Regions from separate parts of the Homo sapiens genome. Here all the other regions are linked to region 4. The links come from fine-mapping of genetic effects on gene expression. A gene starts in region 4. Each other region holds a variant in brackets. All regions are shown on one strand. Distances are between the middles of the regions.

Region 1 (4,000 bases), 77 kb before region 4:
CAGGCATGGAACTGGGGCCTGCTCCCTGCCTTCCAGCCTCCGCCCCTCAGGGCCTGCATTCCAGCTATTGGCTGCAATCCCCAACCCTGTCACTGGCCAGATCCTCCCTACCTTTTCCTTCATACCCCTGCCTCCCAGCCTGCCATCCCTGCTCAGGCAAAGCCAGCAGGGGACGGGGACCCCTCGGGTGACAGATGGGCCTCACACTGTTTTCAATTGTCACGCGGGCATACAGGATGACAGACCTTGGGAACCGGGCATTAATACCGAAGATTTATAGTCAAATCTGTCACGCCTGAAGGCTCTTCCCCCAAAGTTGGCTCAGCCTGAAGGTCGCTTTTCAGAGGTGATAAGTGCAAAAAAGCTGTCCTCAACCGCCCTCCTAGACCCTCCCCTCTCGGGAGCCAAGAGCTCAGGCTGCACACAGGAAACAGAAAGGGAAGCAGGAACAGGAACTCCAAACCAGAGAGTCTAAGACCATCCCCCAAGTGCTTTCTCTCTTCCTACCCCGCCCTCCCCACTGTGATGCTCACACTTGGGAGGTCCCAGCAGGCTGGAGAGGTCAGGGACGCTCCTGGGCAGCTCCTGCGGATGTCGTGTGTCTGAGGGCTAAGCCAGGTGAATGCCTCCCTGTGCTGGTGGTGAGAAGAGAGCCACACTGGCCCAGAAAAGCAGCCCTGCACTAAGGTTACACAGCTCTGACCAGCAGCTACTCTCAGTCCCCATCTGAGAACTGGAAGGCACCCTGCAGGGCCTGGAGGGGCAAATAGTCACCATTCCCGTCTTCCTAGTGAGAGGCAGAAGCCAGCATCCATCCACTCACCAAATTCTTACTTGAAGTCATCAAGGGTCTTGAATGAAAGAGATGAGAGCAGTCTTAGACATTGACCAAGCCAATGGCCCCATTTTACAGATGGGGAAACTAAGGCTCAGAAAGAAGTAAGAATCCAGGTTTATTCATTCATTCAACAGTTACTTGGCATGCGCTGGGGGCTCGGCCTGCTAGCCGGGGCTCTTGACCTGCTGTCTGCTCTGAGCACAACCCCTGTCTGTGCTGAGCACACAGAGGAGCGCAAGGACAAGTAAGTTCTCTTAAGAAGGAAAGACTACCAGAAGATGCATGTGGACCTGTGAAACACAATGGGAAAGTTAAAAGCAACGATCGTGGCAATGCACTGGCTCATCTCACCCACCCCGTGCCCCTAATGAGCAATATGTTATTTTCTCCATTTTACCAGAGAGGAAACTGAGGCACAGGTCTAACAGCTGCTAGTTGCCAGAATGCAAGGCCCACCTTCTGAGCACCGTATTCCACTGTCTCCCAGGAGAAGGCAACATGGCAAACGCTGTTTGCTGCCAAATGTTTGACCAGTGAGAGCTCTACTAAGTGGGGAAAGGTCTCTGTGGGCTAAGGTGGTCTCTGAAGGCTTCCTGAAGGAGGCGACAGAGGCATTAGAACTGACAGAGCCAAAGCCTCAGCAGGGATGGTACCCTAATAAAAAGGAAGCCTCCCAGACTGAACCTCCTGTTTCAAACTTACTCCTGGAGCTGATTGGCACATACTCTGACCCCTTCCTTAGGGATTTTCCCTTTGGCCCCACCCTGAGGGCTCCCTGGAGGTGAAGGCCACTGGACCCTCTGCAGAACAAGCTGGCCCTGGTGGCATGTGGGAACAGGCTGTACTGGCAGCTGGTGCCTCTGGCATTGTGGAGAGGAGGTGGGGGAGGGAGCGGGCACCAACATCCTGGACTCTGGAGCCTGGCATGAGAGCAGTGCCATTCCTAGGTTATAGATGAGCTAAATTAGCTGTGACGCTCATTAGCGGCAGCTCCTAATTAGTGAAAATTAATATTGGCTTTGATAAAGACGTCGGCGCCAGCTCTCCAAGGCAGAGGCATTATCATCCTTGTCAGCTGGGCTAACGACTGGGTAAGTGGAGGAGCCAGGGGGCCTGGGAGTGGGCAACAGGTCCCTGGGGAGGGAGCTTGATGCTCACAGGGGCCAGCTGTGGGCACCCCTGCCCACTGCTCACCTGACCCTCTAGTAGCCATACTGCAAGGGCCTGGCCCCACGTCTAGAGCTGCAGCTACAATCATCATCCATAATATTGTTGGGTTCTTCTGTGCCCCAGGCAGTGTAGCAAATGTTTTCACATGTATTTGATGATCCCAAGAATGTTGGAAGTAAGTA[C/G]TTTTTTATCTCCATTTTACAGACGAGAAAAATTGAGGCTCAGAGAGGTTGAGGAACTTGCCCTGGGACCTCTGGATACCAGGATTTGGGCCCAGGCAGCCTGACTCAAGAGCCATGATCCTGACTTTGGTATTATCCTGCCCTTCCCTTCAACCTCACCCCCAAAAGGGGCACTCTGGATGCCAGCCCCATCGTATACCAGCACGTAACATCATATCCGGCACACAGTAGGTGATCAGCAAATACTTATGAATGAACACACAGGTGCACAGAGGGCCCTTGGTATTCCTCCATGGCATTTATATTGACTTTTTATGTCTTCCTTCTCCATCCACTTGATGCTGTGGAGAACCTGTACTTCCATTTACAGCCCCTGAGTAAGTCCAGGACAAAGTCTCCAGGCTCTGTATTCCAGAACACCGCCTCTCCAGTAGGGAAGACTCCGGGAGCATCCTGCCTTCCCAGGCGGGAATGGAGGCCAGGAGGCTTTGCCCAGACCTTGACTGTGCTATTGCCAAGTGACCAGCTCTGGGGCCTGGCTCCTCTGCCACTTGGGAGAGGACTCGGCAGATGGGCTTCCCTTCACCCCAGTCCCTGCTCCCCAGCCAGAGACCCTGAGTTCCAGCCCAGGGTAATGAGGGGAAGTAACAGATACACCTACTTTTAATCCAAATAAAGGAAAAATGTTTGCCACCATGGAGTTTATAAAAATAACAATGCATTATTCGGGTATTAATAACAATAAAGATGTCAAACTGTCAGATAAGAAGTTAATCTCATTCCGAGCACAATTAAAGATGCTATTTTCCCACCACCTGGGACCACACTGGAGTCTACCACTCAGCAGGCTTAATAGATAAAGGGCCATGCACAGAGCACAGGAGTCCTTGGCACTGCCAACCTGCCCTCCCACCACTTGCTGCCACCTCCAGACCCCTCCCTTGGCAACCCCAGCACAAGGGCTCAGGCCTCGCTTCGCTGTGGAGTATCTGGCAGGACCTTCAAGGCCAAAGGGCGAGGGCAGAGCAAGTTGAAGCCTGGCCCATGTGCCTGCCATTCACCCAGGCATTTCCTGGACAAGTGAATGCTGGGCCAGCACTGTACAAGCAGAGGGGACAGTCCCTGGCAGCTGGGCTGAGTGAGGGTCCAACCAGAAAGAAGGAGACACTGTTAGAGCTGCGAAGAGAGGGGATTTAACGTGGGGAATCGGTCACACGGGTGATAGAGGAGCCAAGAGGCCAAACAGGGCGGTGTGGTGACCCAGACAGAGGCCCAGCAGAAAGCCACACTGCCAGCCCTTTGCGGGAGGGACAAGGGAGGAGGTGGTGTTAACAGGAGCCAAGAGACACAAACTTTGGAGCTACCACCCGAGGAGAGAAGGAAAGAAACACCCTGGCTCCTCCCTTCCTCCCACCATCCAGTCTCCTGCCAGGGCCTCCTGTTGGCTAAACCCAGGCAGAAGCCAGCTGATCTGGGAGCCTGAGGAAGGCAGCCCATGGGGTCAGCTCCCCGCCACTCGGAGCAGGGCTGGAGGTGGCCAAGAATGGAGCTGAGGACAAACAAGCTCGGGACTGGCCCAGGTCCAGCCCTGAAACTGAATCACCTATCATCTGTCGAGCACCAGATCCATTCCAGGCACACCTGTAGATGTGGGGGACAAAAATACAAATTAGAAGTCACATTGACTCTCAAAGCAATTACCACCTATTGGGGGAAATAAGCATATAAACAGATGGTTTCCACGTAGGATGTGTGTACATGCTAAGCTGTATTACAGGCCATGAGTACAGAGGAAAGATCCCAAGGATGG
Region 2 (4,000 bases), 230 kb before region 4:
ACTCAGCTGCCCCCAGGCAGGGCTGCTCAGGCATGCAAAGGGCTCCTCCTACTTGACATATTCCCTATCTTTGGGGCGTGGGGCGTGTATGTGTATTGGCCGCATAGTTGCTATGGGTGAATGGACGAAGGGATAAAGGCATGAATGAATGAGTTGCATGTGTTTATCTGCTGTGCATGTGTGAGTGTGAGAAAAAAAATCAGAAGATAGAGACAGACACAGAGAAGGAAGGATGGTGCTAGGGTTTGAATGTCCCCCTCCAAAATTCACGTTGAAATTTAATCCTCAGTGGCAGTATTGAGAGGTGGGGCCTTTAAGAGGTGATTGGATCGTGAGGGCTCTGCACCCATGAATGGACTAATCCATTCATGGATTAGTGGATTAATGGGTTAATGGATTAATGGGTTATCCTGGGAGGGGGACTAGAGGCTTTATAAGAGGAAGAGAGACCTGAGCTACTGCATGAGCACACGTAGTAATCTCATCATGCGAGATGCCCTGCACCACCCCGTGACTCTGCAGAGAGCCCCCACCAGCAAGAGGGCCCTCACCAGATGCAGCCCCCTGACCTTGGACTTCTCAGCCTCCATAGCTGTAAGAAATAAATTTTGTTTCTTAAGTTACTCAGTTTCAGTTATTCTGTTATAAGCAACACAAAATGGACTAAGACACGTGGGAAGGCAGGTGAGAGACAGAGAGACAGGGAGAGAGGATCAGATTCAAAGACAGATTAACAGAGGGAAAGAGAGGGCATGCAAAGGTGGTGGAGGGTGTTCAGGTGAGGAGCTATACTGAGGTAAAGATGGAACCTGGCCGCTGCACAGCAGGGTGGTGGCAGATGGTGGCAGCTCCCATCTTTTTCTCCATCTAGCCCCTCCCCCAGCCTGCCCTTTTGAGCTTCTGTCACTCCCATTGCTGGAACTCTAAACTGCAGCCTCATCTCAACCTCTGCCTTTCCTATAGACCCCACATCTAAGCAGTCCTGACCCCTCGTCCAGTCCCCACCCACCGGTGCTCTCTGTCATTGCCCACTGGTACCACCCCCATTCTCCATGTGTCTAGATTAATCAACCTAAAGCATAGCTCTGAGTACATCACTTATGCTCAAGGACCATCTATGGCTCCCAATTGCCTGCTGAATTAGATTGAATCTCACAGCGGTGTTCAAGGCCCTCTAACTGGCCTTTCTAGCTGTATAGGAGGGTGCAAATTACGCACTTGCTGATTTAATGACGGTGGAGAGAAGGATGGGGCTATCTTAGTCTAGAAGCCCACCAGTGCTGCTGCTCATGCTGGTGCCTCTCACTTCATCCTTTTTGGGGGATGGGTGTGGGGGTATTCCATAATTTATAGTTTATTTTCTTAATTAACATGTTGTAAAGTTGACTTTTTTTGGTATATAGTTCTATGAATTTTAACACATGCAAAGATTCTTGTTACCTATCCCCTCCAACCAGGATACAGAACAGTCCCACTGCCCCCAGCACTTCTTTGTCCCGTCTCTTTACAGGGACTCCTCTCCCACCC[C/T]CAGCCACCTCTGACCTGTTCTCTGTTCCTATAAGTTTGTCTTTTTTGAGAATGTCATGGAATTATGCAGCACAGGGCAATAGCGAGTGGCTTCTTTCAGCACAATGCCTTTGAGATTCCTCTGATTCTCAATTCCCTTTGGTGATCTATTTATTTAAGCACAGTCTGTCCCTGTAGGACTATTTAGCATATCTGAGTGATCTGCAGAGCTAGGGAGGGGACCTCTGGCATCCCTCTTAGAAGGGTGGCCCCCTGGTGTGCAAGAGGAGGGCTCTGGAGGCAGGAGAGAGAAAAGGGCCAAGAGGATTAAGAAAAGAAAAACAAATCCTGGTAGACCTGCTCTGTAAATGTTAGCAGGTTTGGACATTCCCTAATGAGGGCTATCACAACAAGGCATCATGCCAAAAACAGAAATGGACTAAGATATGCGTGTTAATTTGCCACTACTGAAAGACATTAGGGCTGCCTCCAAGTCTTCTGAGTCCTGCCTCTGTTCCTGCACACTCCACTCCCTCCTTCGCCTCAATCTTCCTCCTGTCATCAGTGCTCCCTCTTGCTCCTCTTCCCCTTCCCTTGGGGGTGGCTCCTCAGTCATCCTCATCTCCCCTAAAGTGAAGCATCAGGGTGTCCTGGGGCTGCCCAGTCCCCAGTCTCCTTTCTGCTCTATCCACATCCCTTTCCCAAGTGAACCCAGCTAGAGCGGTGGCTTTATTTATTCATTTGTTTTAGGTAGAGTTGGGGTCTTGCTCTGTTGCCCAGGCTGGAGTGCAGTGGTGTGATCACAGTTCACTGCAGCCTAAATCTCCGGGCTGAAGCGATCCTGCTGCCTCAGCTCCCCAGCAGCTAGGACTACAAGTGTGCGCCACCATGCCTAGCTAATTTTGAATTTTTTTGTAGAGATGGGGGTCTCAGTATGTTGCCCAGGCTGGTCTCAAACTCCTGGGCTCACATAATCCTCCTGCCTTGGCCTCCCAAAGTGCTGGGATTACAGGTGTGGGCCGCCATGCCGGCCACCGGTGGCTTTAAATACAATCTGGGTGTTGGCAACACTTTCATTCCCGCCTCCAGCCTGGATCCACATGGTGGTAGATGGGGTTCTAGAGGCTCCTGAGAGCCAATGGTTGGATTTCTAGAATCTGGGAGAGCCAGCTGAGGCCACGCCAGTAGCTTGAGATCGGCCATCGAGGAGCATTGACACCACAGAGATTACTAAATGCTATGAGGCAGCCCCTCACCGAGGCCCTGGAGCTGCTCGCTAGGTATCTACCAGCACAGCCCATGTGCCTTCTTGGCGTCTCCATCTGGGTGTCTAACAAGCATGTCAAACGTAACACGCTGGAAGCTAACCTACGGATTCCATCATGCCCTCACTGAATCGACTGCTTTACCGTATCAGGAAGTAAGAACTCCATTTTTCTAACTGCTCAGGCCAAAAACCTTGTGCAGTCACTCTTAACTCCCTTCCTCCCCTCCCCATATTGGCAAATCCCATTGACTCTCCCTTCAAAACAGATCCAGCGGCTGACCGCTCCTCACCCTCCACAGGCCCCATCTGAATGACGGCAGTCACTCCTAGGAAAGGCCCCTGCCCCTCAGGGTCAATTCACCCACCCCCACCCCTGGCAGACACAGCATCCTTTAAAAAAATTTTTAGGTTGAGTGCGATGACTCACGCCAGTAATCCCAGCACTTTGGGAGGCCAAGGCAGGATGATCTTATGAGGCCAGGGGTTTGAGACCAGCTTAGGCAATGTAGTGAGGCCCCATCTCTACAAAAAGTTTAAAAATTAGCTAGGCACAGTGGCATGTGCCTGTAGTCCCAGCTACTGGGGAGGCTGGGGTGGGAGGATCACTTGAGCCCAGGAGTTCGAGGCTGCAGTGAGTTATAATTACACCACTGCACTCCAGCCTGAGTGACAGAGTGATACGTTGTCTCAAAATAAAAAATAATAATAAAATAAATGTTTAAAAAATGGAGATACAATTCATATAACATAAAGGTCATCATTTTAACCATTTGAGAGCGAACAATTCAGCATTTTTCCTACATTCACTGGGTTGTACAACCACTACTCCCTCTATCTAGCTCCAAAACATTTTTGTGTCCCCCACAAATGAAGCTTTGTGCCCATTAAGCATCACTCCCCATTTCTCTCCCCCAACCCTTGGCAACCACTAATCTGCTTCCCGTGTCTGTGGATTTGCCTCTTCTGGATGTTTCCCACACGTGAAATCATCCACCAAGTGGCCTTTTGTGTTTCCCAGGGCTATGCCTGCTGTAGCAGCTCAGTGCTTCATTCACTCCTGCAATGGCTGAATAATGGCCCACCGCATGAAGGCATCACATTCAGTTTCTCCATTCGGCAGCGGATGTACAGAAGTTGGGTGTCTTCCACTGCACCTCCTCCCGAAACTTCACTCCTGTCACATCACTGCCTGCCTGCTTCCCTTAGGCGGCTTGCCATCTCATTCCT
Region 3 (4,000 bases), 390 kb before region 4:
GTCTATTAAGGGCCCCAGGGGCAGGCCTGGCCTGGCTCCAGGGCAGCCTGTGGCCTCTCTTGGCACAAGGGTAACAATGTTTACAAGAATCTCTGTGGCAAGTACAGGGGCAGCGAGGTGAAGCCAGCGGGTGGGGCCCCCAGACTCACTGTGGAGCTGAGTGGGGGCATCCCCCGGTCACGGGCACAGATGGTCAGGTTGTAGAAGGCGATGGTCTCCCGGTCCAGCTCCACGTCCTTCCGGACCCTTAGCACCCCCTCCACAGGAGAGATCACAAACTCCCCTGGGTGTCACCAGGAGAGGCCCAAGTTAGTCGGGCATTGGCAGGAACTGTGGAGACCCCAGGACTCCTTCTGCTTCCTCTAGCAAGCCTCACTCGTCACAGGTGGGGGACAGCTGGGGCCCGGGTCCTCCAGTGACCCCAGCTTCAGATCCTCATGAGATCTGCAAGGGCTGGGATGTGCAGGTGGGTGGTAGCGGATCACCACCACGGGTGCAGGCGGACACGGGCCACTCATGCCCTCATGTGCCAGACCAAGCAGCTTCCTTCCCTGGGCCACAGGCAGGCCAGAGACTGACCTGGGTAAGATGGCTATGTTGAAAAAGTGGGGGCTTCTTGCTACACTAGCACCCACTGTCTAAGCACTCTTGATCAATGAAGGCATCAGGTGCTTCGCAATGTACGATCCATCCCACATGCCATGGCTTGTAAAAAAGGATATTGGGAAGGGCAGAGCTGACCACAAAGCAATGCTTTGCTAATGGTGAATGCGCAGGCACCGGGCAGGCAGAAGGGGACGGATGAGGGGCAGGGAAGCCCCCAGTGCCCTCTATTTAGTCCCCATATTGAGCTATAGTTGGAAAGCAGAGTGGGTTCCCTACACCTGTGGTGACCCTGATTTCCTTTCCTTGATGTTTCTGAAGAGCCCCGCTGGCCCTGTGGCCCCAGAATCCTTTTCTTGGCTGGGCTGCAGGGCCCGATGTCTGACAGTCCAGAGCAAGAACCTCAGATTCTCAGATGCTGACCTGGAAGGCAGCCCAGAGACCGTCCAGTCCCTTGTGTCCTTTGGAGAATGAACTGGGAGCCCAGGGGAGGGTTACCACTTGTCTGCACTCCTGCAGCAAGTGAATGACAGACCAGGATTCAAACCCAGCACTCTGGGTCTTAACCCATTGCCTCGCACAGGACTTGTGTTCTTTCCAGACAGCACCACTCAGAGCTGACCGGGGCGGGGTGAGAACACGGAGGGTGGAGAGAAGAGACAGGGGGAAGGAAACCAGTGAGCAAGCGTGAGCCCAGCTGGAGAGGCAAGAATGGTGGGGGCTGTGGCTCTGGCAGGAAGAAAGTTGAGGGGATGTGAGCTAGGGAACTGGGAGAGCCTGCAGAAGAGAGGCCACCTCTCCGCATTCCCCCAGGAAATGGAATGGAGAGAAGGTTAGTTACCTCCTTCACTTTCCCTTTGAATACTTAGGGGGAAGGGCCCAGAATGGGGCACTGACTTGCTCTGGGACAGACAGCAGGAAGCACACAGCTCACAGGGCATGGCAAGGACAGGGGCCCAGGCGCCCCCACAGTTTTCTCTGCCTGTCTCTTCACATCCTACCTCACAATTCCCTGTCCCCAGCTCCTAACACTCTGATGTACAAAAACAGCCCCTCTCAGTCCCACCTGCAGCTGGGATTTCCCACCAGCCCTTCCGCTCCCAGGCTCTTCCCGTCCCATAGGCTTCACCCTGCCTGGGGGGTGGAAGCTGCTTAAAGCAGGATTTCCTGAGC[A/C]TGACACCCCAAGGTCTCCAAAGAACTGGGGATTCCCTTTCTAGGTGTTTCCCAGCCCTGTCTCAAGCCCCGGCCATATGCAGGCAGAGGGCCTCTTGCTCTCCTTCCAAAGCCAGGAGGAGACACCAGCACCACTCCCTTGAAGGCTCAGGGAGGCAGGCCTGAGGGGCTGGGGGCTGGGCCAGCCTAGTTCCCCTGTGCAAATTCTTCTCCTTGGCAGCTTGCTCTGGGGCCAGACTTCCCCATCCCTCCACAACTCCTGGAGACAGGAGGTTAAAAGCCTAGGCTTTCGTCCAATCATATCTAGGTCTGCATCTGGACTTCATGCCTGTGTGCCCTTGGGCATGTTAAGGAGCCTTGCCTTGATGTTCTCATCTGAAAAATGGGCTAATAGAGAGATGCCACCTTGGGGTTGTGCTGATGCTGGACAAACCCTGGCCCACCTTGTGTGTGCTGATCCCGAAAGGGAGCCCAGGCAGGCCTCTGAAGGAACGGGGAGCTTTCAGGGAGGGTGAGGATGTAGGAAAGGGGTCCAAGGAATGGGTGTGACCAGAAAGGGCAGCTGAGAAGGCAGGCGCTGGCGGGAGAGGCTCAAGTGCATGTGGCCTGTCTCCCAGCTCTTCTTTGAGCACACAGCTCCTCCTAAGGGCTCAGTGGGGCTGGTAAGTGCTCAGAAATCTGGCATCTGTCTCCCTATAGAAAGCAGCCTTCCAGCCTCAGGCTGCAGTGTTGGGAAGGTGACCTTTAAGCTGGGGTCCCAGGCACGTCCCTCCATGCAGTGGTGCACTGTGAAACCAGCTCTCTCCAGACAGCGGTGCTGGCTGTAGCATCCGTCAACCCTTCAGTGACCAACATGAACCCCGAGGTGGGAGGAGATGTGGGAAATGGATGTCGTGACCCATGTCAGCAGTACCATCAGGCCTTCCTCACCTCTCTGGGCCTTCATTGATCATTTCTGAGATGCGGGTGGCGCTCAGAGACCCCAAAGTTATCTTTGGGCTCTAAATGTCTACTCTTCCTTCCTTGGGGGAGGAAGCCTCCCACCCAGGTCAGCCTTAGGAAACTCCTAGGCGTCTCTCACTCCTTTGAGAGCCTGCCTGTTAGTCTGCTGGGACTCCCCCACAAGGCCCCAAATTCTTAAGGCTCATCCCAATCACGTGTGGATTGAACCCAGGAAGTTTCGCTTGTGGCTTAAAGGCCATGGCATGGAGGTCTGCACTGTGCTGGAGCACAGGTGTGTGCTCTGTGCCTTGAGGCTGGGGTGCAGAGTGGGCCCCTCATGGGGAGGGGCTTCAGCTGCTCACCCAGCACCTGCCTCTCCACCAGGTGCCGGCATCCTCCTGTGCTCCAGGGACTCCCATAAAATTACAAAATCTCTGTGTTTGTGAAAACAGCAGAAGAGAAAGGCCCTTGCTCTGCTGGTTTCCAAAGAGGAAGGCCTAGTGCTTGGCCAGAGAGGAGACTTTGGGATCCGAAAGGGTAGCATGTCCGAACAGAGTGACCCCTCATAAGCTCTGGGCAGCAGGGGCTCTCATTCTGTCACTTGGGCCCTCCATATATAGGTTGTTGTTTTTTCCCCCAGCCTCTTAATTGCAAGCGAGGCTTGGGTTCACTGTTGAATCTTCGCACCGCTCTTTGTTTCCTGGATTTAAATACCTCTATGCTGACAACTCCCAAATACCCGTCTCCAGCCCAGACCTCTCTCCTGAACTCTTGGCTTGTATACGCAACCTCTACCTGGTATCTCGAACCGACCCTCCTTTCCCTCCACAACCTCCTGCTGCAGCCCTCCATCCGTCAATGGCAACGCCATCATCTTTTGGGTTGCTCACGCCAAAACCTTGACTTTCTCTCACATCCCACAGCCAATCAGTTAGCACATCCTACTGGCTCCACCTCTGAATTACACCAGAGGTGGCCACCTCTTTCCCTTTGGTGGTGATGCCACCACCCTCTCCCGGCTACCTCATTCTAGCCTGAGTGATTGCAGCAGGTTCCCATCCGACTTCCCTGCTCCTTTTCCTTCACCCCTACAGTCTGTTCTGATCACAGGAACCAGAGTGGTCCTGCTGAAACCTAAGTCAAATAATGTCTCTCCTCTGCTTAAAGCCCTCTTAGGGTTCCCACCTCAGAGCAAAAGCCACGCCCTCATGATGCCCCTCAAGGCCCGACAACATCTGGCCCCATTACCTCTCTGGTCTCATTTCTTCCTATGCTTCCCTTT
Region 4 (6,314 bases):
GGTCCTAGCACACTACAGCCTTGAACTCCTGGGCTCTAGCAATCCTGTTGCCTCAGCCTCCCCATTAGCTGGGACTATAGGAGTTCACCACTGCACCCAGTTCCATGTACAGTTTTGACTGCACACAAAGCTGAGATGTTATTCTAATCTATTTAAAAAACCCTAAAACACAAACACTCTTGTGGCATTAGCATGGTACAACCCGAAGGGGCCAGTGGTGGACTATTAATCCGAGCCTAGCAAAACTGGCCAAAGAGAGAAGCTCCAATCTCATTCTCATCTCTGTGTTCTTATCCACTGCCCTATACAACACTCTGCACCAAGGAACTATGCAATGCCTCTTAGAGAAGGCACTGTGGACCACAGCTCAAACTTTACTGAGCACATGAGTCACCCAAGGATCTTACCAAATGCAGATTCTGATTCAGAAGGTCTGGGGTGGGGCCCAAGAGTCTGCATTTCTAACAAGTCCCCAGGTGATGCCGACGCTGCATGTCCACAGGCCACACTCTGAGGAGCAAGGTTCCGCTACACCTTCACCTCCCAGAAGAATGTGCATTTTAAATGAGCACTTCAGGAAGGTGCCCTTTAAAATACTTGGCTCAAATAAATGAACCTCAAATGGTGAAACTGCAGGTAAGGTAGCTTGTTGAGTGGGGGAGCTATTCCAGAGGCAACCAGGACCATCTGCTATCACAACCCTCAAATCAAGCCCTTTGGTAAGCAGACGTGAGGAGCCCAGCTGTTTAGAGGTGAGGAAGGCCAAGTCTGAGAAGTATATGCGGACCCAGCACAGACGGGGCCAGGATGCTAGCTCTGGGCCTCCCACCCCTCACTGCTGTCCTCCAGCACTCGAGGCAGAGCTTCCTGGTTCACACCAGTGGCTTCTGTGTGCCACCTTCCCAACTCACGGGGGACACCCACCCTCTACCACGAGACACTCTGCCTTCCTGCCCTCCCCAGCCCTGGCAGCCAGAACCAAGCCTTGCTATTCCCCCAGGCAAGGGGCCCCTTCCCAGCTCCTCCTTGGCAGAGTAACATCTAGTGCCCCCACCCCTGTAGGTGCTGACCGCAGTGCGCCTACCCCTGCACCACGAACCAAGCACTAACTCCAAGCCAGCTCTCCCCATCGTGGGCTGACTCATCATCACCATGCAACTGGCCCCAACTAGGTTCTTAAAGCCCGCCCCACCCCACACCCCACAACCTAATTCTTCCCTGTGTGAGGGTCTGACTCCACCCAACACACACACACACACACACACACACACACACACACACACACACACACTCCTGTGTCTCTCTAGCTTATTTCAAAATCCAAATTAGGGTTGGGGCACTTCCCAAGGGGCTGGAAGGCGAGGTCAATGTCAATGCCAGCTCTGGTCTGAGAGGGCAAAGGACGTAGAAAAAGAAGGCTCTGCTTTCTGAATTACTAGGGAGGATGGGGGAGTATTACTACCGAGGAAAGGCTAATTTCCTCCCAGTGGACCGCTGACAGCACTAGGGCTGGGGCTGGGGTCGCAGTGGGGCGGCGGCTGGCATCGGATCTCCGCTCACAGCACGGAGGCAGCCTCTCTAGGTGCCCGCTCCGAGAAAGCCAGGCAGAGTCCCCGCCGGCTGGCGCCGTCACTGCCTTGGAACACGCGGGCTCTGCTCGAGTCCTGGGCTGACCTACGGTGGAGATGAGGGGCAGTGCTCCCGGGTGCCAGCTCCTGGGGGCAGCCAGCACCGCTCGTAGCGGACCAGTTCCAGGGCCAGGAAGGCGAAGCGAGAGCCGCAAAAGGCTCCCGGCTCCTCGAGGGGCGCGTCTTCCCATAGCTGGACCGAATTTGGGAGGATGTGTAAGTCCCCTGGGGTCTCCCGCGGGCACAGGGACTTGATGAGGGGAGGGGAGAACTACGTGCCTTTAGTTCCCCTCAGCGCCTCTGCCCAGCCCGCAGTAGGGGTGCGCCCCACCCCATCCCCACTGTCCAAATGGGGACCCAGGGCTCAGAAGGGGAGGGGATTGGATCCCAACGCGCTCCACTCTCGAAAATCTCTCCACCCCAGACCTGGACCCTCTCCGTAGCGCCGAGAGCAAAGCCCCCAAATGTTCGCGGTCCCAGGACCGGGGATGGGGGATGGGATGCCTGTCCTCCCAAGGCCAACGCGAATGGAATTCGAGTTCCCAGGAATCAAAGTTGCCGCGCGTCGGGGAGCTCGGAGCGGGGCGCGAGGCTAGGGCCAGGGGCCTGGGACCGAAGGATGCCGCGAGCGCCCGCCACGGGCGATGGCCGCGCTGGGAACAAGTGGTTCGGCAGCCGCGGTCACCACCAACTTCCCCGCCGCGCGGCGGGCGAACGGCGAGGGGAAGGAGAGGGAAGCGAGGAGGGAAGAGGCGGTGCGTGGCTCCGGGTACCGTGTGCGTGTGTGCAGCGGCGCCGCGCCTCGCCTCGCCTCGGGCTCTGCTCTCCGCCGGATCGGCCCCCGCGGGCCGCCTGCTCTGGCCCTGGCCACCGCCGCGTCTTCCCGCCGGCGCGAAGGCTCATCCGCGGCGTGCCGGCAGCTCCTGGGTCTCCGCGGGCCGCTCGCCGCTCGCCGCTCGCCGCTCGCAACTTCAGGCGCGCCGGGGGCTCGGACTGGGCGCGCCCCAAACGTCCAGAGGCTCTGCCACCCCGCGCTCCATGCCCAGGCCGGGCTGACTAGCCCCGACCACCTCAGCGTCCGGCCGCCGTCGGACGCGTCCTCTAGCCAAGCATCGCGCCTGCAGCCCGCGTCCCTCTCTCCCGAGCCGCCGCCGCCGCTCAAGTCCGCGATCAACTTTCCCTTGCTTCCCCCGCCCCGCTCGGCCCCCGCCCCGCTCGGCCCCCGCCGTCCAGACCCCGCCTCCCGCAGCTCCCTCCCTCACCTCCCGCCTCGCCCGGCCCCCGCCCGCCCGCCCGCGCTCGGCGCTCCCCCACCCCTCAGGCCGCCAGGACCCCCGAGCTCCCGCCCGGCCCCGCCCGGACCCCCGGGAGCGGCGCCGAGCCCCGCCGGGCGCTCAGGGCATGAATATTTCAGTGCTGGCGAAGCTGCCCTCTGCCGATGTCATGGCACCGGCTGCTGTGGCAACTCTACGAATCCCCCAAAGGGGCAGGGAGGAAGCCCGCGGAAGAGGCCCCAGGTGCGAGACAGAGCAGTGCCCCGCCAGGCCGCCAGCCGTCCCGCAGAGGGGCGCGCAGGGGGATGGGGCCCCCAGCGTCTCGTCCGCCCCGCGCCTCAGGCAGAGCGAGGTAACGCTCCCGGGAAGCCCGGGCGGGCGAGCGGGCGCTCGGCCTAGGTGAGCCCGCGCCATCTGTTGGCTTTAAGCGCCCCCTCTCTGCTCCCAGAGTCGCTGAGCAGTCCCTCTAGTCCTTGGGGCCTCTTGGCCTACGCTTCTCTCCAACCAGCTGCCTTTGCCCACCCGACTCGTGCGCTCCCATCTGCGCCTCCTCCCTCACTAGAGCTCAAGAGGCCTCCAAGTGCTTAGAAATGGAGGACCCCGGGTTGGAGGAGACCCGTGAGGTCACTTAGGCGCCCTCACCCCTGCGGGAGCTCCGTCTGCAGTGCCCGAGTCATGGTCTCCCGGCTCCTTTTTGCACACCTATAGGGACAGAGACTTTATGGCTTTCTGAGACAGCTGGATCAAGAAAGGGTCCATATGCAGGTAATGGAAGAGGTTTATCCCCTACCTTTGATCTTTACTTCCCCGGGGCTAAGCATTCTGATTTTTTAAAACTATTTCTCACATGACAGGATTTCCGAGCTGTCACTGTTCCAGTCAGTACATTGACAGTACCTGCCTGGAGCCAGGCTCTGGGCTGAGACTTTCTGGGCCTCAACTCATTCTATCTTCAATAAAGTCTTTCTGGTGGGCCCTGCCATTATCCCAGTTTTACAGTGAGAAACAGGCTTTAGGAGGTTGGGGACTTGCCCCTGTGGTGGAGTCGGGTATTGAACCCAGAATCTATCTGGTTCCAAAGCTCCAGTTCCTTACCATTCGCTCATTCATTATTCATTCATTCATTCACAGTCACTGCTATGTGCTAGCTAACTGAAATAGTTTCTAGGAATAGGATGGAGAACAAAACAGGCTTGGTCTTTGTGCCCCATGAAGCTTCTCTAGTAGGGGAACCAGACATTCATCAATGAAACACATAAGCAGGTAAAATTACAGCCAGAATCAGTGCTAGGAAGAAGAGTGCTTTAATGGCGCCTGGCCGAGGGGATCAGGGAAGACCTCCTAGAGGAGGTGACTGAGCTGAAGGATGAGCAAGGGAGAGAGAGTGGAGTTTTAGGCAGGAGAAACAGCATGTGCAAAGGCCCCAGGTGCCCACTGCAGGCAACGGCTGGGCCAGGAACAATGGTTTGGTGACCGCAGTCGCAATCAACTTGTGCAAAGGTGGGAAGGAGCTGGCATATGTCAGGAAGTCCAGAAAGGGTGGGGAGAGCTCCGTGCCTCCAGCGTACGAGGAAACGCTCCTGGGAAGCTTGGGAGGGTGAGTGAGCCTGCACCATCTGTTGGCTTTAAGCACCCCCTCTCTGATCCGAGTCACTGAGTGGTCCCTCTAGTCCTTGGCAGTGACTGTAAAGCCACAATGGAGTGGGGGCCAGACTGTGCAGGTGTGTTGGCCTTAATCAGGAGTTGATCTTTATCCTAAGACTGAAAGCTTCAGAGGCCGGGCTTGGTGGCTGACACCTATAATGGCAGCATTTTGGGAGGCTGAGGCAGTAGGATCACTAAGACTCTATCTAAAAAAAAATAAGAGAGAGAGAGAATTGATTGGGAGGCAACAGTTGATGAGAAGAGACTGCTTCAATTAAAAGTATTTATTTGTCAAATACTATGTGCCAAGAAATTTTCTAGACCAGGGGTGAGCACACCGCTACCCAGAGGTCAAATCTGCCTCATCACATGTTTTTGTAAAGAAAGTTTTAGTGGCACACAGACATGGCCTGTTTGGTTGTGTCTCCTTTCACACTACAACTACAGACATAAGGAATTTCAAGAGGGACCGCATGGCCTGCAAAAACAAGAAATATTTACAGCCTGGCCCTTTACAGAAAACGTTAGTTAACCCCTGTGAATTTAGACACTTTGGATATGTCAATGAACAACACACACAAGCACACACACACAGGCACACACACATGCACACAGACACGCATGCTTGCGCCAAACAAATCCTTGCCCTGGTGAAGCTTACATGTCCTCAGGCTGCTGCAGTGTCTAGGTGATTGGTGACAGAGGCCTGGAATGAGGGGGTGGGTAGAAGTGGAGAGAAGTGACTTTCAGGAGGTAAAAATCTACAGGGCCAGGAGGACAGGGAGTGGTTATACGTGAGATAGAGCAAAGGGTCAAGGAGACTTCTGGGTTTCTGGCTTGTGGTGGTAGATGGACAGTGTGCTGTTTCCTGTGATGGGGCCCTCTGAGGAGGCCACTATGGAGACCTGAGCAAGAGCTCCCTTGGGACATGTTGTGTGAGAGGCCTGTGCAGTCACAGAACAGAGATGCCAAGTAGGCTCTTGGACAAATGAACTGGAGTCGTGGTCCTACATGTCTTAGGTGGTCATGCTTTTACACAGTGTGATGGAGCCAGGAGTCCGGAGAGCGGGATCTGAGTTCTAGGTCACCCTCTAGCTGGATGGTAGCGGGCTGGACACTGGACCTCTCTTGGCCTTGTGTTCCCCATTCGTAAAATGAAAGCATGAGAAGAGGTGTTCTTCAAGGTTCTCCACCCCTCAAACCTTCTGTTACACACTGTGCCAAGCACCGTGCTGGGAACTGGGGTGTCAGTTGGGATGCAGCCAGCCCACAGAACCACCGTGAGTGTGTAACAGACAGGGAATGGAAGGGCTGAGAATTCTAACTGGATGGCGAGGCGACCCAGAGTGCAGCAACAGCAGAAAGTGTGCCACCCCTAGACTGGAGGGATAAGGGAGGAAGCAGAGTGACCAGGATCAGGGCACACGGTGGAAGGTGAGACCACAGTGGGCCTGTGTGGTGTGGGCTCGAGTCACAGAAACACAGCTACTGCCAGAGACGGTGGAGTGTGAAGACACATCCCGGCTTCTTTCCCCAGCCCTCTCGTCTCCCACCTGAAGACAGTGGACCTGGGAGTTTGCGGGGTCAGCCTGCTGTGATGCAGAGCAGCACCACAGAGGGGAGGAGAGAATGGCCCTGAGGGGAACAGGCCAGCACCGCACACCGGGGACACAGATGTGAGTGACATCCATCCTGTCTTCAAGGCACTCCCAGTGGGAGAGAGGGGCAGATGAATCAGTTACAACCTAGAAAGGTAAGTGTGGCAAAG
Region 5 (4,000 bases), 200 kb before region 4:
TGGGAGAGACACTTAAGAAAACAAAGAGGACGGTGATCAGACGCCCAAGGAGAAGAAAGCCCATGGCAGGAGGAGGGGGCACGCGCTGTCTGTCATCCTGGACGTGTTGTCACCCCCTCCTCTGGCTCCAATCCAGCAATGGGACATGGGAAAGATGGGCCCAGGGATGAAGCTTCTCGGGAAGTGGGGACACCAGAGACCACCTATCTACCACTGGGCCTGTCCGTACCAGGTATGGGGTGGGTCATACCCCCAGGGAGCCCACCGTCTAATGGGGAAGATTGGTCATCTTCGGGGAAGGACAAGGCACATGTATGAGGAAGCCGACTGGAGAACTCATAAAGGAGTGGATGTGAATTTAAGAGACTGGTTTCATCATTTGGGGCTTGTGGACATTCTGAGATTCAGTTTCCTCTTTGGAGGTGAGAATACCTTCCCCTCTCACAGGGCTGTTTAGAGGTTCAGTGAGATAAGGAATCTGAAGATGCTTTACAAACTGTAAAGTGCTGAACCCATGTCAGGATGCGTCAAAGATGGTGAACTGGGTGCCTGGGGCAGGTGGAGCTGTGCAGTGCCACAGACTGGATGACGTTAAGCAGGAAAGATGGGCAGAGCGGGGCAGGGTGGGGTGCAATGGCAGTGACAGGTGCACCCTGAAGTTTGTGGGACAAAGAGGGTTGGTGCCCCTGAAACTTCCCTCCAAATCCTACTGCCCAGGGTCCAGCCTCCCCCTCCAACTGCCATCTGTTCAGTCCTTTGTCTTGCATCACTGAGATCATGTGGAAGCAGTGTGGGCCTCAGAGGGTACTGAGTTCAAATCCTAGCTCCACTACTTCTAGCTATGTGGCTTTGGGCAAGTGACTTTGCCTTTGAGCCTCAGTTTCCTCACTTGCCAAAGAGGGACACTGACAGACTCTGCCTCCTGGGGCTGCTGGGAGAACAGAGCTGGTACAGAGCGGCTCTCACTGATTGTCCGAGCCCTCTCCATCTTCCCTGCCATCTTTCCTCCATGAACACTAATCCTGACAGTGCCACGGCTGCCCCTGCCCTCCCGCCCCAAGTGCTGCAAGTTCCAGAGTGAATGACTTTCAAATCTGTGGAAGGAGAACCCATCACACACACCTTGAGCCGGGTAATTTATGAATCAAATTGTGCTCCGTCAGGACTCTGCAGCCCAGAAATAGATGTGGTCGGACGAGGTTCAGGGAGCCAGCCTCAGACACAGTTATCTTCATAGAAACTGGCCACCAGCTGGCTGAACCAGCCCGAATGACCGACCTTGAGGGGTCCCCTGGGGGCTGCAGAGCCCCCCCCCCTCCGCCGCCCACCCAGCCCAGGCCCTGCTCCAATGCCTGAAGGGAGAACAGAGATCTGCCTGGGGCTCAGAAGACAGCTGTGACCCTGGGCCAGTCACTTCACTTCTCTGGGCCTCAGGGTTTTCTCCTGTTTAAAAAAGAGGGGGCTTTTCCATGGCAGTGGTTTTTCAAATGTCTTTGTTTCAGTAGCAGATTCTTGTATCAGACAAAATTTCACACAGAGCTCCAGTATAGAAAACAGCCAAAATCAGAGCTAGTTGCCCTGGCTGAAGCAGATGACGGGGTGTGGAGTCCAGCACACCCAGCACCCCGTTACCCTCCAAGGGGGCCCTGAGGGATGGGGTTCAGGGAATCTGGAGATTCCCAGGACGTTTTCAGTTTTAAGATGCCATGGGAGATCTGATCTTTTTGAAAGGGCAGATATTGCAGTGGCTAGGACCAGGGTTCGAACCTCAGCATTACTTCTCACTAGCTGTGTGACCGTGGGCAAGTTATCTACCCTCTCTGGGCTTGCGTTTCTTTAACCATAAAAAGGGGAGGAGTAATTCTTATCTTATAGGGCTGATGTGAGGATAAAAGCAGGTAATAA[T/G]CCTACTTAGTTCAGCACAGTGTCCAGCACATCACAGATGCTCAACAAATGTTAGACCTCATTGATTAGTAAACTGAGGATAGAGGTGAAAAAGTCATAAGGCTTGTAAGTGGTCGCACTGAGATTTGAAGCCATGGCCTTTAATGCCAATGCCTATATTCCTTCTCCTACTCCTCCCTAGAAACAATGCTTCTAGAAGGCTCCACCAGAAAGGATGCAGATTGTGCCAGGCCCAGTTTCCTAATGTTGGAGGGTTTTCCGGCATTTGGTCAGTGACTCAGAGTATAACATCAAAGCAGATGATTCTGGTCAGGGCATGACTGAAGGAAAAAAACTACAGATTTGGTTAAGCACAAACCCACTCAGCAATGTGGAAAACATCAAACATCTTGGGTTCGAGTGAGTATGAGTCAGAGTCATCATATTTATGAGAAAAGATGGCAAATTTGTCCTACAGAGTCAGAGCCCCCAGTCTGAAAACAGAAAGGCCAGGGTTTCCCCAGGAACTCTGATACCATGGGGTATAGGAAAGGTCAACTTTTAAAAGCTCTGTGGTCTGCCGGGCATGGTGGCTCAAGCCTGTAATCCCAGCACTTTGGGAGGCCGAGGCGTGTGGATCACAAGGTCAGGAGATCGAGACCATTGCGGCTAACACGGTGAAATCTTGTCTCGACTGAAAATACAAAAAATTAGCTGGGCGTGGTGGTGCGTGTCCGTAGTCCCAGCTACTCAGGAGGCTGAGGCAGGAGAATCGCTTGAACCCGGGAGGCAGAGGTTGCAGTGAGCTGAGATAGTGCCACTGCACTCCAGCCTGGTGACAGAGTGACACTCCGTCTCAAAAAAAAAAAAAAAAAAAAAGTTCTGCGGTCAAACAAATCTGGGAAATGCTCAACAGACATCTTCACTGCTGGACTTGTCAGAGCCTTTAATGTGCTCATGGGCATTGTGATTTGCCAGCACAAGGAAATTGTGATGCAGTGTCTCTCTAACTTATTTGACCACAGAGCCCTTTTTGCAAAGCTTATCTCCTAAAGCATCAGTGGGCCAACCCACTGAAGAAATTGAAGGTGTGGCCGGGTACGGTCGCTCACGCCTGTAATCCCAGCACTTTGGGAGGCCAAGGCAGGTGGATCAACTGAGGTCAGGAGTTTGAGACCAGCCTGGCCAACATGGTAAAACCCTGTCTCTACTAAAAGTACAAAATTAGCCGGGTGTAGTAGCACACATCTGTAATTTTAGCTGCTCGGGAGGCTGAGGCAGGAGATTTGCTTGAACCTGGGAGGCGGAGGTTGCAGTAAGCCGAGATCGCATCATTGCACTCCAGCCTGGGCAACAAGAGTGAAACTCTGTCTCACCAAAAAAAAAAAAAAAAAAAAAAAAAAGGAAAGACATTGAAGGTGTAAATGGGACTATTCCCACAGTTTCCCTCCAGTGGAGTCTCTGAGCATACAAGTTAGATGTGTCAAGTGTCAGAGGTGGAAAATGGAAAGATGCTTAAAGCCTAGCAGGTTCCAACTTTTCCTTCATCCCCTGGAGAAGTGAGAATCAGAGATGAGAAGTAACTTGGTCAACAACACACAGCACGTTAGAAGCAGAACTGGCACCAGATGGGTGGACCAGAAGTCTGGCTCAAGTCTGGACTCCTGTCCAGGCCACAGGTCAGATGTGGCTCTCTGGTCTGCTTTGAGAAGCTTTGGGGACCACACATAAAAGTTTTACTATGGAAAATTTCAAAGAAACACAAATGTAGAGACAAGAGCACAATGAAGCTCTCGGTACCATCACCCAGATGCAACAATCATCAAAATTTTGCCAATCTTATCTTAAAATCACCCCCCACAACACTACCAATTTTTCACGGTGTTAACAGAGGAAATCCCAGTTCATCTTTACATACTGTATGCATCTCTCATAAGGACTTTCAAAAATGCAACAAAACATGCCATTTTCACCCTAAATAAAATAAATGATTCCTCAATGTCACCTAAGACACAGTCCACATTCAAGTCAGGGATGCCATTTTTGAAGCCAACGTCAGGATCAGAGGTTTTTACCTTTTCTGCTCAGCGCTCACAGAACAGGCCTCTGAGATGAT

Direction of the effects. Positions count from the first base shown, and alleles are read on the strand shown. Sizes are in standard deviations (SD) of each study's normalised expression. Not every link is listed here.
With allele G in place of C in region 1, the expression in thyroid of the gene that starts at base 2,800 in region 4 is lower (moderate effect, 0.42 SD a copy in GTEx).

The links. PIP is the estimated chance that this variant, and not a neighbour inherited with it, causes the effect. A credible set is the group of variants that fine-mapping cannot tell apart.
Region 1: its variant is the best candidate, but not a certain one, in a credible set for the expression of CDH23 in thyroid (GTEx, PIP 0.88).
Region 2: its variant is the best candidate, but not a certain one, in a credible set for the expression of CDH23 in whole blood (TOPMed, PIP 0.57).
Region 3: its variant is the best candidate, but not a certain one, in a credible set for the expression of CDH23 in whole blood (GTEx, PIP 0.57).
Region 5: its variant is the best candidate, but not a certain one, in a credible set for the expression of CDH23 in monocytes after LPS (Fairfax 2014, PIP 0.59).

Annotation. Positions count from the first base shown.
Region 1 is chr10:71,471,829-71,475,828 of GRCh38, reverse strand. The region is part of intron 3 of CDH23 (cadherin related 23); the gene reads right to left. It overlaps LOC105378356 (a long non-coding RNA gene), which reads left to right and starts at 1,775. Exons shown (of 3, transcript XR_946055.3): 1 at 1,775-1,929; 2 at 2,213-2,417; 3 at 2,540-2,951. The variant C/G (reference allele first, on the strand shown) is at 2,191.
Region 2 is chr10:71,629,502-71,633,501 of GRCh38, reverse strand. The region is part of intron 11 of CDH23 (cadherin related 23); the gene reads right to left. Among named protein-coding and RNA genes, the nearest start is that of C10orf105, 88 kb to the left of the region's middle. RefSeq lists enhancers at 1-330, 2,225-3,055. The variant C/T (reference allele first, on the strand shown) is at 1,528.
Region 3 is chr10:71,780,570-71,784,569 of GRCh38, reverse strand. It overlaps CDH23 (cadherin related 23), which reads right to left. Exons shown (of 70, transcript NM_022124.6): 42 at 150-283. Among named protein-coding and RNA genes, the nearest start is that of MIR7152, 8.2 kb to the left of the region's middle. The variant A/C (reference allele first, on the strand shown) is at 1,777.
Region 4 is chr10:71,393,406-71,399,719 of GRCh38, reverse strand. CDH23 (cadherin related 23) reads right to left here and starts at 2,800. Exons shown (of 70, transcript NM_022124.6): 1 at 2,402-2,800. RefSeq lists an enhancer at 1,997-2,508 and a silencer at 3,192-3,281.
Region 5 is chr10:71,599,278-71,603,277 of GRCh38, reverse strand. The region is part of intron 9 of CDH23 (cadherin related 23); the gene reads right to left. Among named protein-coding and RNA genes, the nearest start is that of CDH23-AS1, 89 kb to the right of the region's middle. The variant T/G (reference allele first, on the strand shown) is at 1,906.